Linked DNA regions of Homo sapiens: region 2 is linked to region 1. Evidence: fine-mapped expression QTL. Tissue or cell type: monocytes after LPS. Region 1 holds a variant in brackets; the other region holds the start of a gene. All regions are shown on one strand. Distances are from middle to middle.

Region 1 (5,204 bases):
AGAGGGCTGGATTGGGTCATGGCTAAGATTCCTTCCAGGTCTCTCCAGAGCAGGGGTCAGCCCTAACTGCCTTGTCTCTTACACCCATACCCCAGTACTGCCTCCCTCCTAAATCTTTTTTTAAATCCCATTTACTCCACACTATACCCACCCTCAATGCCCTGGCTCTGAACCCGGTCAGAGCTTCATTATCTCCTGCTAGACTAGTACCATGACCTCCTACTGGACCCACAGAATTGCTCTCTTCCCATTCATTCTGCAGAGCAGCAGTTCTGAAAGTGTGGCCCCAGGCCAGCAGCATCCGTATCACCTGGGAGCTTGTTAGAAACGCAAATTATTGGGCCCCACCCCAAATCAAACATTTTGTGAGAGGGCCCAAAGATCTGATTCTCCCAGATCCTTAGTCTGGACTCCTCCGGGCCTCTCCAGGTCCCCATCTCACCACTCCCTTCCTTGGAAAATATTTACTCTCCAGTAACCCCAAACTTGTTATTTCCAAATACACCATGCTGTGTCATACCTCTGGCCCCACATAAGTCATTCCTTCTAGCTGGAACAGTCCTATGACCAATCTTCACTTTGTAGGGCTAAGTGCTTCTCAACCCTGTCAACTGAATAACTTTTGACATCCTTCCAAAGGCACCCCTACAGATAATAGCCCTCCAAAAAGACTTCCCTGGCTTCTCCCACCTCTAAAACTATGTACTCCTATGATTCCTTGTGTATGCCTCCAAAATAGCACATGCCACTTTGCATAGTAGGCAGGATTCTGTGATGTCCCAAAGATTTTCCATACACCCCCTCCCAGTGTACATAATTTCATAATTATGCGCTGCATAATTTCTGGGCCAATGATAATGATAGAGGCAGGAGGCAGAGAAATTCTAGGCAGACTGGGGACAGGTCTCCAGTGAAACCCCACCTTTGAGCCGAAAAGCCTGAAACCCACGGCCCAAAGTGAGAACTTCTATCCCTGTTTGCCGGCTCTCTCCCAGTTGGTTCTTTCTGAATAATGTCTTTTTACCAGTCAAATGTTCCCTTTTCCAAAACTACCTATGGCCCACCTCGCCCCACATGCTGTGCCTATAAAGACCCCAGAATCAGTCAGTAAAGGAGAGAGAAGCAGCTTGACTGGAGAGAGGTGACTTGACTTCAGAGGGACAACTGGACTTCAGAGGAGAGACAGCTTAACTTCAGAGAGATTGCTTAACTACAGGGAAGAGCTGACTAGAGACAGCTGGACTTTAGGGGAAGATTATCTGCCCGTCTTGTGCCCTCTCCAGCTCCCCTCTCTGCTGAGAGCCATTTCCCATTGCTTAATAAAATTATCCACCTTCACCATCCTTCAAGTGTCTGGGTGACCTCATTCTTCTTGGATGCCAGACAATCAGGACCTACCAAGTGTGGGTACCCAAAAAAGGCTGTCACACTGGCCCTCTGCCCTCACTAATGGAGGGCAGCCACTCCATGCAACAAGGCAAGGGGCCCACTGAGCTGATAACACACCACTGTCCACAGACAGCAGAGCTAAGAGAGCATTGTAACACATCCCCTGGGGCTTCGGGGGTTGCAGGCTCCCCCAGCGGGGCACCGACATCCCTTGAGGCCCACATAGAACCTGCTCCTGCTGGCGCCTTAAAGCACCCAATCAGATCCCGCATTCACTCACTCACATGCTCCCTCCTGCAAGAAGTTGAGCCCAGTAAGCCAAGTAAACAGGGCACCCCCGTTGCAAGTCTGACAAAGGGGTCAAGAAAAATCCTTCATCAATTATAATGGATTATAGTCCTGTAATTACATTATGTTATATAGTATATGCTATTTGGTTGACCTTAAAATAGGAAGATTAATCAGGTGGTCTTGACCTAATCACAAGAGTGCTTTAAAAACAGTGCTTTCAAAACAGTACTTTCTCCAGCTGGTTGCAAAAATAAAAGTCAGAGAGATTCAACATGAGGAAGATTCTCAGCTGCTGAGATGGAGGGACCCTTGGGCAAAGATCTAAGAGCAGCCTCAAGGGGCTGAGAACTGTCTCTGGCTGACAGCTAACAAGGAAATGGGGACTTTAGTCCTATGACCTTGAGGAACTGGATTCTGCCAACAAGGATGAGCTTGGAAGTAGATTATTCCACAGCCTCCAAACAAGAAGTCAGTCCAGCCAATACCTCCATTTCAGCCTTCTGATGCCCTGAACTTGATATACCATAATGGGTTTCTGACCTACAGAAATGTGAGCTAATAAATCAGTATTGTTTTAAGCCACTAAATTTGTGGTGACTTTTTGCACAGCAACGGAAAACTAATACACCTTATATTGTAATTCTCTATTTGCATAGCAACTCCCTCACTGACTGAGCTACTTAAAGATACTGCTGGCTGGGCATGGTGGCTCACACCTGTAATCCCAGCACTTTGGGAGGCCAAGGTGGGCCGATCACCTGAGGTCAGGAGTTCGAGACCAGCCTGGCCAACGTGGTGAAACCCTGTCTCTACTAATAATATAAAAATTAGCCGGGCATGGTTGCACACACCTGTAATCCAGCTACTTGGGAGGCTGAGGCAGGAGAATCCACTTGAACCACGAGGCGGAGGTTGCAGTGAGCCAAGATCACGCCATTGCACTCCAGCCTGGGTGACAAGAGGGAAACTCAGTCTCAAAATAAAAATAAATAAATAAATAAATAGAGACCGCTTCATTAATTCTTGCATCACCAGCAACTTTCTGGGGCACGCCCAGAGGAGGTTCATAGTAAATGCTTACTGGGTGAATAGATAGATAGACAGGTGGATAGATGGATGGATGGATGGATGGATGGATGGATGG[ATGGAT/A]TGGATGGATGGATGGATGGATGAATCATGGAGCATGTGATACCATTGTTCCAGCAGTTGCTTTAAATATGGGGGGAAATGTAACATAAAAAGGGGATAGAGTATATAAATAAACAATAAAAACCAGGATGAGACAGTGATTTTTTTGTCCCATCATTGATTTTTGCAGCATAGAGGACTTTTGCTGGTTAACACTGAGTGTCAACTTGATTGGATTGAAGGATACAAAGTAGTGATCCTAGGTGTGTCTGTGAGGGTGTTGCCAAAGGAGATTAACATTCGAATCAGTGGGTGGGAAAGGCAGACCCACCCTTAATCTGGGTGGGCACAATCTAATCAGCTGCCAGAGTGGCTACAATATAAGCAGGCAGAAAAATGTGAAAAGAGAGACTGGCCTAGCCTCCCAGCCTGCACCTTTCTCCCGTGCCGGATGCTTCCTGTCCTCGAACATCAGACTCCAAGTTCTTCAGTTTTGGAGCTTTGACTGGCTCTCCTTGCTCCTCAGCCTGCAGACGGACTATTGTGGGATATTGTGATCATATGAGTTAGTACTTAATAAACTCCTCTTTATATATATGACTATTCCACCAGTTCTGTCCCTCTAGAGAACCCTGACTAATACAGGCCTCTTTATCTGTTAGGAGTTTGTCCTGCATTTATCTCTTACAGCTCAACATCTTATAGCATTAAGCTAAAGACACGTGCCCTTGTCAAGCAAGTGAGACCTGTTGCATATCACCAGGAGCGGCAGTATCAAAATGTCAACACACTGCATGGTTTGTAGATGTCAAGATTACCAAGAAAGACACAACTCCCAGAGGCACTGGTTGGAACAGCATCTTAGAGAAAAGACAGAGCAAGGTCAGCTTCAATAGTGACCATTGGTCTCCCATGGCCAGTAAGCCAGCCCTGGAGCTGATGCAGGGAGATTGTCTGCATGCACTCCTCTTGTATTAAAGGCAAAGGACTGTGTTGTGAACAGATATAGCAGTGGGATTGCCAGGTGTGGTGCCACATGATGCATATACTTAAGCAAAACAAAAAAGTTAATATCAAATCCAGAACAGGGAAAGATACTCCTAAACAGGGCAATCAGTCTAGCATAGGCTGTGACGGCTTTTTATCGCTATATAAGAAAATGTTCCAGGTCTGACGACACACTCATATGCAACCATGCAAGGATCAATGAGGCTGCATGTGACTGCCTTTTCCAGCCCCGATATGGACATCTATTATTGCTGTATCTAACTCCTCCTTCTCTTTGAGTCAATGTTGCCCTGTGTGTAATGCTGGTAGGGTTCAGTACCCAGCCTCTTACCTCAGAAGTCCAAAGGTTGGGGGTTCTGCCTGTATGTATTCCCTGGAAATTCAGACAGATAGACCCCTTATCCAGAAGCTAGAGTGAGTGGTATGAAGACTCTGGGATAGTCAGGTTTATTCCTGGCAGCCATAATGGTATCTAATTCCTGGTGTCTAATGACAGGTCAAGCGCTACCCTAGAGAAGCAAAGGATGCTTCCTGGCCCAGTTGTCCTAAGAGGGTTCTTAACTCAAGCTCTCAATTTTTGTCCATATTTCGTACTGATTCTTCAGCATCTCATTGAATCACTGAAACCTCAATAGATTTCTTTTCTGCTTAAAATACAAAGAGTTGGTTTCTGTTGTTTGCAACCAAGAACCCTGACTGATACATACTCTGATCATACTGAACTGACAGCCAAGTGTTTTTCCTACTTCTAAAAGTCTCCAGAGACTCTATAAGCGCCCTCAGTTACCTGTTGTACCAGTCAAGGTTCTTAGGTGTGGACAAAAGAACACTCCCTAGCTGATTTAAGAAGAAAATGAAATTATTAAAAAGTGTTGCTAGTTCTCTGGAGTGTCTCCGGGAAGCCCTACAGCCAGGAACAGTGGATCAATCACAGTATCCTCCAGATTTTTTTCATGGGGTCCCCATCAGCATCCCCACTGACACAGAAACCACAGGTCCCACCCACAGCACTGAGCACTGTGTGTTTCCACAATCAACTCTGTGATTGCTGCATCTAGATGCTAAATATCTATGTCCCTTCTCTCACCAGAATAAATTCCTCTGGACACCTGCTTCCTAGCATCACTGGCTTCCTAACTGAAGCCAGACACAGGTGCCTCTGGTCAGGAACTTAGGCTTGCATTCTATACAAGGGAAGCTTGGAAAGCCCATTTCTGGCTTTCTACTTGAGGCACAGACTCAGTAAATGAGAAATTCCCCAAACTTAGAAAGGGTGTACAAGAGTGCTGGGCACCCAAGTGGCTTGACTGATATCCTGTTCATTGCAAGTAGCTTGACATCTGTTACAGTGTGAGAAATGCCTGGCATCCAAGAAATCCTTCCTAGAA
Region 2 (5,129 bases), 220 kb after region 1:
GTTAGAGGCACATGTTAAAGAACATCACAGCAATCAGCAAAATGCAGAATGTGGGAAACTCCTTATAACAATCTATTTCTTCAATATAAAAGTACAAGGAAAGAAAAAGGTGTAAGACATTTTAACCAAATGCATTGTGAGGAACTTGTTTGGATCATGACTGGAAGAAGTAAACTACATGAAACATTTATGAGAAAATTGGGAAATTTTGAACACTGTCTAGATGTTAATAAATTATTACTTTAAAAGACAATTTAATGATTTTGTGGTTGTTTTTAAAAATAGACCTTATCATTTAGAGATGCATAGTGAAATATTTATGGATGAAATAATAATGCTCCATGTGATTTGCCTTAAAATAATCCAAGGAGGGAAAGAAAAGGTGAGGGTACAGATGGAACAAATTGGTCATGGGATAATTGTTGAAGCCAAGTAATGGGTGCATAGTAGTTAATTATATTATTCTGTCTCTGTTTTCAATATTTGATATTTTTATACTAAAAAAAATTTCAGATGTTTTCTTGTCTAATAAGACTTGCCCTACTCTCTTCCTATACCTCATAGAATTAATTGTGCTCATGACTGCTCCCCTACCGTCATGTAATTTAAACATTTATTTTCAAATCTTTCTCCCTTACTTGGCCATAAGCTCCTTGAGAACAAAGATTGACAGAGTTTCACTCTGATCACCCAGGCTGGAGTGCAATGGAGAGATCTCGGCTCACTGCAACCTCCACCTCCCGGGTTCAAGTGATTCTCCCGCCTCAGCCTTCTGAGTAGCTGGGATTACAGACGCGTGCCACCACGCCTGGCTAATTTTTGTATTTTTAGTAGAGATGGGTTTTCACCATGTTTACCAGGCTGGTCTCAAACTCCTGGCCTCAGGTGATCCACCCTCCTTGGCCTCCCAAAGTGCTGGGATTTCAAGCGTGAGCCACCACGCCCAGCCCCTGTATCTTCTTTATTTTATATCATTTGTATTCCTACCACCTAGTACAGTCTGAGTACTCAATACATTGTGGTGAATTGGCAACTCTCTAGCCCCAATTCACCATGGTCCTCATGACAGAGAGACTAACTCTATTGTATTGAATCAAATTTCCAGTCACGTATTGTGTCCTTTATACATTCAAGTTATAATGTGTATAAATGCATGGCAAAAGGGCCAAAGGAGCCCTAATGTAAAAACATTGGCAATAAAACTGTTGAGACAAACCAAGAATCCAGGTTGCCAGGGTCAGCAGTTTTAACATTGTTTTATGGTACATTGTGTACTTTTCCTTCTTACTGATATGCATTGCACTGTGACCTTTGCAGAGTCCTATCCTGCCCTGCATTTTTCACAGAGTTGCTCTCAGTCTCAAATAAGATACCATATGCATGTGAAAGGGCTTTTGAAATGGAAAAGCAGTAGAAAGTTGAAAGTAAAATGGTCTCTTTCTCTCTAGGGCATCAAGGCATCTCACAGAGCACACTTTAGCTACTGGGAGGATTGACCTTGGGTGAAATTTCAGTATGTAAAGCTTGTTTGGGGTTATCTTACATAATTTTTTCTTTCCTTGTGCTATACACACACACACACATATATGTGCATATATGTACAATGCACATATATACACACACACATATGGCACCTAGTATATGCTTGGTGCTATGCTAGGTGCTGGGGAGACAGTGAGAACAACCCAGGTGCCCAGGACCTGTCCTCACAGCCCACCTAATCCTTTTAAGTCTTTACATACCTCCCATCCCCCACCCCCATGCTCCTTACTCATGGTATTCAACCCAACTGATTGACTTATTTATTGTTATTTATATGCTTATATATTTATAGATTTATCATTTTATCAAGATTTTTACGAAGATACTCAATTGGAGGTTCCTAATTCTGGAGAAATTTCCATTTTACAAATATATTCTTGGAGAGGGCATGATTATGGACCTGTCACATTTGAGTACTGTGGCAGTTAGAAGGAGGGCAATTTTGGGAGGCCCTTCCAGGCTATGTCCTTCCAGCTATTAATGAGGTTCTGTTTCAGAGCAGACCATATTACACGGTGTTATTAATAAATCTGGCGAGTGGTTATAAGGGTGTGTGTATCGGAATAATCCATTAAGCTGTACATTGGTTTTATATGGCTGTCTATATTTGTGTTTTATTTAACAGTAACAGTTAACAATAACAGTTAAAAATAAGTATCACTTCTTTTAAAATTCACACAACTTCTTGGGCTGAGTGAAATGTGGCGCAGGTGCAGGACTGTGGGAAGACAGGAGCGCCAGGGAATGTCTGGCCAGCAGCGCGCTGCCCTCAAGGGGCCTCCTTGAAGGCCCCTTGAAGAGGGCAACACAACTAATGACGATAACAATAACAACGATGACAATATTGACGATGACAATAACAGTAATAAATCCGAGCAAGAGACTCGAATCTGTCAAACAGCAGCGACCACCACGAATCGCATCCCCGCGGCGCCGCCATACAGGAGACTGCCCTCGCCGAGGCCACAGCGGCTCTCGCGGCGCCCCTGGAGGCCCCCTTCCTGCCTTGGCCAGAGGGGCGGGGCGTAGGCTGGGGGCGGGGCCGGAGAGTGGGCGGGGCCTGGCGCGTGGGCGGGGCTCCGGGCGGGCCGGCCGCCGAGGGTGGGGCCGAGGAGGAGGAGGAGGAGGAGGAGAAGGAGGTAGGGGCCTGCGGGTGGCTGGGCGGGGCGCGCTCGGGCCTCCGCTCTTCACGCGCCGCATTCGTAGCCCGAGAGTCCGCGCCGCGGGGAGGCTTGGAGGCAAGCGCTGCCCGCGAGCTGAGCCGCCGGAGGAGGAGCCGCGGGCAACGAGGTAGGCAAAGGAACACTGGCCGCACGGCCTGGAGCCTTCAGCTCCCTCGTCCCGGCCCGAGGGGGTGGCGAGGCTCGGGGCGGCGCGCGGAGGCCGGGGCGGGCGGGGCCGGGACCTGGGGGCGGGGACCGGCCTGGCCAGAGGGGCCACACGGAGCTGATTGGGCTGTGGAAGTCGGAATTCCAGTCGGTGCGGTGCGGTGCGGTGCGTTGCCTCGGCGCGGCCGGCCGGTCCCGGGACACGGCACCAGGGAGGTGTGGAAATTGCCTGCCCCAGGGGCGCCCGCGGAGGAGGGTAGGCGGGGGCGGCCTGGGCCCTCCCACTTTTCAGGGCTCCTGGGCCAGTTCGCCCGCACAGCCCTCGGGAACTTGTTAACAGGAAAGCCTGGCAGAGAAACAAATGCCAGCGTTTTGGAAGAACTGAGAGTCACGTCGTTAGGCGCTGAGGCTTTCTTTTCCTTCCCCGCCCCCTGCCCAACCTCGGCCCGACTTGGCCAAAGAAGGATGTGTCACCAGCTCCGGGCCGCGGACGGGATTCCCGGCCCGCCAGGAGCCGGGGTACCTGAAACAAAGGTAAACGGAGGCCGGGCGGCCCCTGGTCCTGCACCGCGGCCGCGCTGGAGCGCCTCGGTGGGTCTCTCCCGCGCCGACCTGGCCGCCGCCGCCGCGGAGGGGCGTTCTCCTGGGGGACCTCTCGATGGAAACCAGCTGGCCGGGCTTGGAGTTGATGTTGCATCCGAACTCTGTTGTGCTCCCGTTATTCCCAGTCCTCCCACTCTGGTAAAGCTTAAGGAAATTTTATCCAGTCTTGGTGGTCAGCAAATGTAGGGGAAGACAAATTATTGTTTGTAAATTATAAGGTATTTTCTAATTAGGAAATGGCCTGAAAACATTAAATTCTTAACACGTAAGCAAAAAAAGAGTAATTCCTTCCAACATCTGAGGAAGTATTCCTCCTCAAATCTTCATTTATGTACAAAACATCCCCCACACCTTTGGTGCCAGGCATTTTTCTTTGTTCTTCCTTAGTCTCAGGCCTTAGTTTCTTGTAAACAGAACCCAGCGCCTAGACCCTAAGAATTGCCATACTAGGTCAGAGCATGGGCGTCCAGTTCAGTAGGCAGCCGGCTTGTGTTGTAGTAAAACTGTTGTTTTTTTTTCTTGGTGGTATGTTAAAAATTATCTCAGTTTCTTTCAGTAGTCCATGAAAGCCTTTTAAAAATTTTCTAAGCCACTGCTAATTTACACACACAATTTATTTACATTTATTGCATCCAAATGGCCCTTTTATCACCTCTGGCAGAAGAACTTAATGGCATGAGATACTTGTGGAAAAAAACTTAGATCTTTTATACAATCTAGGAGCTCAGAAATCTAGGAGATTTCTAGGAGAACGGGGAAACAGATCAAAAAGGTTTTTAAAAAACAAAGCTTTGGGAAAGTGTTACTGGGGCCAATCTGGCTGTTGAGTTCAAAAATAGCTTTATGCACTGACAACCTGAACATTGAGCAGTTAAAGATTTATTTGTACTCATAAGTATTTGCATATTTTAAAATGTAGCTTAACATTCTGGAGAGTGAAGGGCCTATCTGACTTTATCTTGGGCTGAATTAATTTGGCCTTAATGTTCAGCTGAAACCAGCTACTCTGAGAGAATGGAAGTTTTGTTTCAGCGAGAAAGGAAAAAAGGAAATGAATAATTTTGGAGTATAGGGTACTTGGGGGCACCTGTTCAAATCATAACTTTGCTTTTAAACTCTTCAGAGACTCCTCCTTGCTCCTGACAAACATAGTCCCCACTGATCTGGCCCCTGTTACCTTTCAAACACACAGCTGAAGCTTCACCTCTGCCCTGAAGCTTTGCTTGACACCCCCCATCCCCCAAAAAGAAAACAGATATTTAAAAATCACCACCCTCAGAAGTGCAATTGACAGCTCTTTTGAGTGTTATCGTCCTCTGAGTCAGAGTTTCTCATTTGTAGTTCTGTTGACATTTTAGGCCAGGTAATTTCTAGTTGTGGAGGGCTATCATGTGCAGCGTAGGATGTTTAGCAGCATTTCTAACCTTTACTGAGGAATAGATACCAGTAGCACTCCACACACACAGTTGTGAACATCAAAAATGCTTACAGACATCGCAAATGTCCCCCAGGAGGACCAAAATCACCCTTAGTTAAGAACCACTGTTGTGAGCAGACTGCTGCCTTAACACTAGTGACGCAGCATTGTCCTCATTTGCTTAGGTGTTTACTATACTAAGCTTGAGGGCGGGAACAGTTATTTATTTAACAGATTTC

Direction of the effects. Alleles are on the strand shown, and positions count from the first base shown. SD is a standard deviation of normalised expression in the study named.
As copies of A replace ATGGAT in region 1, the expression in monocytes after LPS of the gene that starts at base 2,711 in region 2 goes down (large effect, 0.83 SD a copy in Fairfax 2014).

Evidence for each region. PIP is the estimated chance that this variant, and not a neighbour inherited with it, causes the effect.
Region 2: it holds the start of PPP2R3A, and the variant in region 1 is fine-mapped to the expression of PPP2R3A in monocytes after LPS (Fairfax 2014, PIP 0.95).

The regions. Positions count from the first base shown.
Region 1 is chr3:135,741,094-135,746,297 of GRCh38, forward strand. No RefSeq gene overlaps it. Among named protein-coding and RNA genes, the nearest start is that of PPP2R3A, 220 kb to the right of the region's middle. The variant ATGGAT/A (reference allele first, on the strand shown) is at 2,825.
Region 2 is chr3:135,963,018-135,968,146 of GRCh38, forward strand. It overlaps PPP2R3A (protein phosphatase 2 regulatory subunit B''alpha), which reads left to right and starts at 2,711. Exons shown (of 14, transcript NM_002718.5): 1 at 2,711-2,832. RefSeq lists an enhancer at 2,285-3,103 and silencers at 2,548-2,777, 2,908-3,187.